2 linked regions of the Homo sapiens genome follow. The protein of the gene in region 2 purifies or fractionates together with the protein of the main gene of each other region. This does not show direct contact. Each region holds a gene or a part of one and is shown on either strand. Other genes may lie near its edges. The genes, in order: MANBA and SPAG11A.

What was found.
Region 1: the proteins of SPAG11A (region 2) and MANBA purify together in Homo sapiens (affinity purification with mass spectrometry, with the first as the bait; one large-scale study listed by BioGRID). This does not show direct contact.

The regions. Positions count from the first base shown.
Region 1 is NC_000004.12:102,722,969-102,726,792, reverse strand, and holds part of MANBA (beta-mannosidase precursor), read left to right. Parts: intron 1-109; coding exon 110-204; intron 205-2,825; coding exon 2,826-2,931; intron 2,932-3,751; coding exon 3,752-3,824.
Region 2 is NC_000008.11:7,857,769-7,861,528, reverse strand, and holds the end of SPAG11A (sperm-associated antigen 11A isoform 3 precursor), read right to left. Parts: intron 2,299-3,760; coding exon of another isoform or gene 2,244-2,298; intron 1,183-2,243; coding exon of another isoform or gene 1,107-1,182; intron 884-1,106; coding exon 696-883; 3' UTR 586-695; downstream 1-585. UniProt on the Homo sapiens protein: Has antimicrobial activity against E.coli. Plays a role in the defense response in the male reproductive tract, contributing to sperm maturation, storage and protection.

The sequences.
Region 1 (3,824 bases), on a different chromosome or scaffold from region 2:
AATTTTTAGGTGATAAATAGCTGTTGTTAATAATTTATTTTATGTTTGTTTTATTAATTTATTTGTGCATATTTAACCATCTACCATAATTTTTACCTTGTATCAACAGGATTCTTACTACAGATTTAATGACCTTAACTACAGATGGGTCTCTTTGGATAACTGGACCTATAGCAAAGAATTTAAAATCCCCTTTGAAATTAGGTATGTATGTTTGTGGGTGTATTTTTATTATTATTTGAACTTTTCTTCTTTTTCTATCTGGGCAAAAATGTTGTGTTTTGTTTGTTTTTTTTTTGTTTTGTATGTTTTGTTTTGTTTTGTTTGTTTAGGTTACATATCTGAGAGTTAAGTAAGATGAAAGCCTTGTACTATAAAAGTGAATATATTATTTATGTTTTGTTTTGTATATGAGGATGGTGCTACTAATCAACAGTCACCAAATTGTGTCTTATGGAGTCATTTTTCCAGTGGTTATGCCCTATGTAGTGCTAACCAGCCATTGAGACTATGACCTTGACCTATACTATGTGGTGAAGCCAGGAGGTGAAGCACAGATACTGTTTTCAGTAATGTTCTGTTATTATAAGCAAATATTTCCATATGAGGTAGAATGTTACCCAAAGGTACCACCACTACTGCTAAATGAAAAAAAAAATCCTTCTGTCCCTTTTATGTGATTTTTTTTTTTTGGTAATTATTTACTAGTCTTTTAAAGGGGGGAAAAGGCCAGAATATTGTTATCAATATCATGGAGTTACTGCTGTGCTCCAGGCTTTTATTTACAGATAATATTTAGAATATCTTTCGTAATGGTTCTATTTCACCTTGAACTCAACATATCCAATTGATTTTCCCCCTTAAAACTAACTTTATATTCTAACAGCTTCATTGTTTTTCTTGATGTAACACCATTTTCCAGTCTATGTCTAAGGTGCTTTGGGCTTATTACATCTTTTCTTCATCTTCCTGTGTTCAGTCTGTTCTGGGTGGGTCTTGCAAATTTTTGTTTAACATTTCTCTTGGTTTGGCCCCTTCCATCTCATTTCCATCTTTCCATCTTTGCCTAGAAGAGTGCCAGGAAAGAGGCCAAAGCTGCCTAATCAAATTTCTTGCTTTGTTCTTTTATTCTCCAATCTTTTCAATTTAGAAACATTAGATTAATCATCACAGAATATTGATTGTGCCAAGATAGGTATTCGTTCAAGAATAGCAAGTGTCTATTTTACTTGGCAAATCAAGTATAAACTTCTCACTTGTCTGTGAAAATACAGCTGAAAGATGTCTGTCCCTGTAACACTGCCCGCACCTCTCTGCCCCTTGGATTTGTCCAGCTTTTTCCTCCTTAGCTCCCCAGCCCAAATTACACATATGAGTCGATTACCTAAAAGTAATTCATGCTGTCAGCACTTCCTTGTTTTGGTTTTGCTCTTTGCAGGGGTAAGGGGTTCCTGCAAAGAGCAAAGGGTATAAGGGGAGTAGAAATGCCTCCACCCAGTCATTTCTACCTAGTTTTAAAAAAAATACTTTATTGATATATAATTAACATATTGTACAATTCAGTCATTTAAGGTATATAATTCAATGGTTTTTAGTATACTTACAGTTACAAAACCATCACCACAATCAATTTTAGAACATTTTCCTCATCCCCCCACAAAAAGTTACACCCATTAGCAGTCATTTCCCATTGCCCACTCCTCCTGCCCCTGAATTCTTACCCCAGCCCTAGGAACCACTAATTTACTTTCTGTCCCTCTGGATTTCCTTGTTCTGGATACCTCATATAAATGGAATCATACAATATGTGGGCCTTTGTGACCGCCTCTTTCACTTAGCATAATAATGTTTTCAAAGTTCATCCATGTTGTAGCATGTATCAGTACTTCATTCCTTTTTATTGTTGAATAGTATTTTATTGTATGAATACAACACATTTTATTTATTCTTCTCTTCATTAAGTTCTTGTTTCCATTTTGAAATCTTTTCTTATGAGATAAACTCTGATAGCACTTGTAGTTGTTCAACAATATTGCCAGCCAGCCACCAAATGCCAACCAGATTGCAGACTCCTTAAGTACAGGCACTGTTATAGTTTCCTGTAAGGCTTAGCAGAGTGCTGGGTGCATAATATTCACTTATAGATGATAGTTTTCTAACGTGTTCTCTTAGACAGGGTCAGTAAATGTAGTTTGTGAGAACATTTTATGTCTATTATTTAACTTGGTTCTCATTTTTTTTTTTTTTTTTGAGACGGAATCTTGCAAGTGCAGTGGTGGGATATCCACTCACTGCAACCTCCGCCTCCTGGGTTCAAGTGTTTCTCCTGCCTCAGCCTCCCTAGTAGCTTGGATTACAGGCACCCGCCACCACGCCTGGCTAGTTTTTTGTAATTTTAGTAGAGACAGGGTTTCGCCATGTTGGCCAGGATGGTCTCGAACTCCTGACCTCAGGTGATCTGCCTGCCTAGGCTTCCCAAAGTGCTGGGATTACAGGCGTGAGCCACTGCTCCTGGCCTAACTTGGTTCTCATAATAGCTTTCTGAAGTATTAACTAGAAAAAGTCAATATATTTGGAAATTATAAGTTGTGCTCTTGGTTTTATGGTGATTTATTGATACATTATAGAGAAAGATAAGCTGGATCACTCAAAGGACGTAAGTATGTTTTAAAGCAGTACTTCTGAAAATGTCACTGGAAACTGCCTTTTAAGAACATATATTTTTTGTGGAATATTTATTTCTTTAGGCCTTAAATAATAAAAAAGAGACTTATCTAAGTTAATGCTTTACACATCTTGTTTTAAAAATCTTTTCTTTTTTTTAGCAAATGGCAAAAAGTAAATTTGATTCTTGAGGGAGTGGATACGGTTTCAAAAATCCTGTTCAATGAAGTCACTATTGGGGAAACAGACAATATGTTCAATAGATATGTAAGTATATAATGACATTAGGTTAAAAAAAATTTATGTGTGTTTATGTTAATTGCTTTTGTGAGTAGAGAAAAGTAAATGCATAATTGGCCATGTGACAAATATGAGCTCATTAAAGCACTGGATGAGTTACTTGATTTCTCAGTTGCCACATTTGTGGAATAATGGAAACCTTACAAACCCCATGGGGTTAGTGTGGGGATTTAGTAAGCTAATTGTATAAAATGTTGGCAAGTTCTTGGCACATAGGAAGTGTTCAAAACATGCCAATCCCTCCTCTGCTGATACAGTTTCATTGGACAAATGATTTTAAAATAAAATGTCATTTCCTTTCTGGAATAGTTATATTAAGAGATTATATGCTGATCTTCCTTTCCTTTCAAAGGTAGACTTTTCAAAACAAAAATAACTCATTACTTAGAAATGCATGCTGTTCATACCGGAGAGGCAGGTTGTCATGAAGTGTCTAGGAAACCCTTGGCAGTTCAAGGCCACATATAAGTAGACAGAGCAGACATTCCAGAGCTAAAGTTATTTTTTGCTCTATCCATTTCCCTAGGACCATCATTTTGCCAGGAAAAATAGAAGGAGAAGCCTAGAAACTTGGATTGGGTAGGAAAATATGCTTAGTTTTAACTAAAAGTGGGCAACTAAGTGATAGATACTACAGTGTTTCAGAGAAGTGTTCCCTCCTGCAAGGAGGCTAAACCTAGATCGGCATTATATTATGTGTCTTTCATACAAAATGCCTTTATCTAAAATTTTACACACAAGACTACTTCCACATCATGGGTTTGTCTGATTGTTCCCTTTAACTTAGAGCTTTGATATTACCAACGTGGTCAGGGACGTGAACTCCATTGAGCTGCGTTTCCAGTCAGCGGTGTTGTATG
Region 2 (3,760 bases):
CTCCAATTGCACAGAAATATGTTTTTTAGAAGGATCATAGAAGAATGAATGCTGGCTGATAGGCATACTGAGAATGCCATTTATGAATTGCTAGCCTGGGGGAAATGTGCTTCACCTGATGATTTTCATTTTTCTTTCATTCCTAAAATGGACCTGCTTACCCCCTATTATACACACTATCAGCTTGTTGTATTAATAAATTGAAATAGCCTAAGAGTAAATGCTTGAAAACAACACTATCCTACTGAAATGTGACCTGTTGGTGTTATTGCTTGAGGACGCATAAAGGGAAAAGGGATAAGGTGCATTACCATCTGGGTGAATAAGCAGGAGAAGGCTAGTGCTGGGTGTGTAAGAAAGAAGTCATCAGATGGAAAACAGAGCAGCAGATTGGTTGCATTTATGTCTCTCTGAAAATCAGTTTGGAGCTCGGTTTCTAGTCAGTTCCCATCTCCAGATACTTAAGAGATATTCCCTTGACTAGGAAAGGAAAGTGGAATATCACAAAATTCTGAGACCCCTTTGAAAAGGCAGTACATGGAGAAGTAAGGAAGTTAAAAAAATGTCTTTTATCAGCTCTTCACCTTTGGTGCTAAATTCATTCAACAAATATTTATTGAACACCTACTATAAGCCACACATTCCTTTAAGCCCTTGGGATACTTCAACATCCCTGCCTTCCGGGAGCTTATATTTTAGATCCCAGATCTGCCATCCATCTCTGGTTTCTCTTTTCCTTCTTCATCTGTATTTGATACGCAACACCTATTCCAGGGATCAGAGCTAATGTCACGCTTTTTCTCACCAGAATGGCAGAAAAAAAGTCTGCAGATCCCTTGCTGCATACGGCAGATGGTATTTCTAATTCCCAGTGGAACATCCCCTATGGATACAACAGAAGAGAGTTGACATTTAACTCATATAGTGCAGAGAATAGAAGATGAACCCAGCCCACTGCCAAGGGTTATATATTCTGACAAGGCTAAGTATTTTTGGACAAGCCCCAGTTTAACCGAACTTTGGCCTCTTAGCTTTAAAACAGGAACGATAATTTATATCTGAAATGTTGCCAGGAGGATGATAGGGTGTGTTTTATGAATGCTCACCTGGCCCATCTAGGCCCTAAAAAGCCCACGCAGATCTTAAATGAGGGTCCTCGAGCCTCCTGGTGAGAGATGTGCACTAGAAGGAAACAAAGGGAGTTTTGGAAAACAGAAGTGGTCCAGAATAGGACAGGTCTTGGTCTCTAAGGAAATTAGAGGTATTAACCCATTCTCAACTTATGGCCCAATTTTTAGTTTTATGTCCTACAACGAAAAGGAGAAAATAAAACCTCTCTCCTCACCAGGACCTGTGGGCTTGTAAGTCACAAATGACCACCTAAATTTTTATAACAACAGGACATTGGGCAAGAGATGGTTGAAAGAAAGATCTTACTTATGTCAGATCTGCAAATGCTACGTACGATGACTTTAAACAGCAGCAACAACAGCAGCAACAACAACAACAGCACAGTGTTGGTCTTGCGTGATTAGGAAAACACTCTTGCACAACATCCAACCTCCAAACGGGGTCTAATCCCTGATTCTGTATCATCTCAGCCCTGTCACAGCTTGGAGGAGACAGCAAAGTGAAGAAGGTGGGGGGTCCACCTTTAGTCAAGACAGAAGAGCCCCCAGCCTGGAAGCGTGGAGACCTGGATTCTGGTCTTACTTCTTCCAATATCTCATTATGTCTCCTTAGACAACTCATTTAACTGGTTACACTTCAGCTTGCCCATCTGTAAATGTGTTCTATGTGCAAGCAGGGGGAATATTATAAGTTTGAAGACCTACTATGACCATAAAGATTCATTGCACCATGGTAAATTAACACTTTCTCTGGACTTTGGTTTTCTTTTTGTAGAGCATGGGGCTGCTATAGACAATCTCTGATTCCCTTCCAGCTCTGACATTCATATGACTATAACTTCCTTCTGAAAACTTTTCTCAGACTGCAGTGAGTGCTTGCCACTTGTATCAGAGCAAGCATACCCCTTTGTCTTGTGTCAAGACCTTTATAACACTTATTTAGCTTTTAAAAAACTTCACAGGGGAGATCAAAATTGTCCAAGACTGAGCCCCACAGTGGCCCACCTGCATCCACTAACAACATACAGACACATCTACACACTGTCCATACAGACACACACATAAATGGAATTCCTGCACTACCTTCCCCAGGGCTAACCAGGAGACATTTACCTGAGTTTGTTTGGACCAAACAAAAGAGAACAGCAAACAGAAAAAAGACCTTCATGTTTTAAGGTCCGTTGAACCTCCCTGCCCTCCCGTGAAGGAGCACAAATATGATGAATGATGGAATGAAATGGAGCGGAGAAGGCACAAAATGGGACATTTATAGGTTTTTGGGAATACTGATCAGCATGAGCATATTTATCTGCTCTACTGAGTAAGGCTGTGGGCAGAAGGTTACTGACTACTCTTCCCTTTCTGCCTAAAAATAGACTGGCTTCCTGATATTCAGAGAAGCAGGGATCAACCAATAATTCCATATACGGATATTGAAGAGGAAAGTGAACCAACATTGAGGTGTGGCTACTTAGTGCCAAGCCCTGTGCTAGGTGCTAGAGACATGGTTGTGTAAAGATATATTTTCTGCCTTCAGAAAGCTGCGGTGTCCACCACAGTTGAGCAGATAATTAGCTTATTTCCCAGCAACATGACTCCCATCTACCAACAGAAACATAGGCCCACGTGCATTAGGAGACATGTGCACGAACGTTCATTGTAGCACATTTCCTTGCAGCCAAGAGAATGCAACCAAATAGTGTATTATGACAACAACAAAACACAATGTATTTCCACACCACAACAAGAATAGAAAAACAAGAAGATGTGTACAACAACGTGGATGAACCTCACAAACGCTATGCTGAAAGAAAAAAAAAACAGAGACAACGTACCACATTATTCCAAAAATTTGGCAAAATTCACCTATTTATGAAGAGCCAGGATATTGTCTACTTTGGAGGAAGAGGACATGCTCTTCTCTCATTTGATGAAGTTATCCGCTGTCGGAGGTGACAGTCTAGTGAGGGATGCAGAGAGCCCCCGGCAACCACAGGGCTGTGTCATCCTGGGCTGGAGGGAGGTTTGTGGGCTCTGGGGTGCTGGGAGTTGTGAAAACAGAATCTGCAAGGACACGATATTTTTGTGTGTGGGTTTATATAATGTGTGGTATTAAAACACACAGTGGATAAAGCTGCACATTTTGCCCCTATTTGATTTTAGTCCCAGGATCACTTAGATTTATTTCCCTTAAAATTCTCTTAAGCAAAAGGGGCAAGAGAGAAGGATGTCTTCTCTCCTATCCCCCTGGGCTTCATAACAATTGCTGTTAGCTTCTTATTAATCCTTCCAGAGGTGTCCCATGTGTATGGAAGCAGAGATGAATCCATACCCCATTTTTATGTAAGCAATAGCAGACTCTAGATATCATTCTGGACTTGCCTATATTACTTGTTATAGCTTGCAGAGCCTTGTTATTCTTCAGATTAGACACATCATATTTTCTGCAAGCTGTCTTCTGCGTTATTTAACCAGCCTCAACAACCATATCTCACCATGAGTCTTACCTAGACATGGATTTTGAAAAAGAGACATCAAGCAGTGGTCTTGGACTTTCTGCATGGGTGAACAGTGTGAGCATCTCAAAGAGGCAGGGGCTGGGTGTTCATTTTGAACTTTCCACCTCTGGA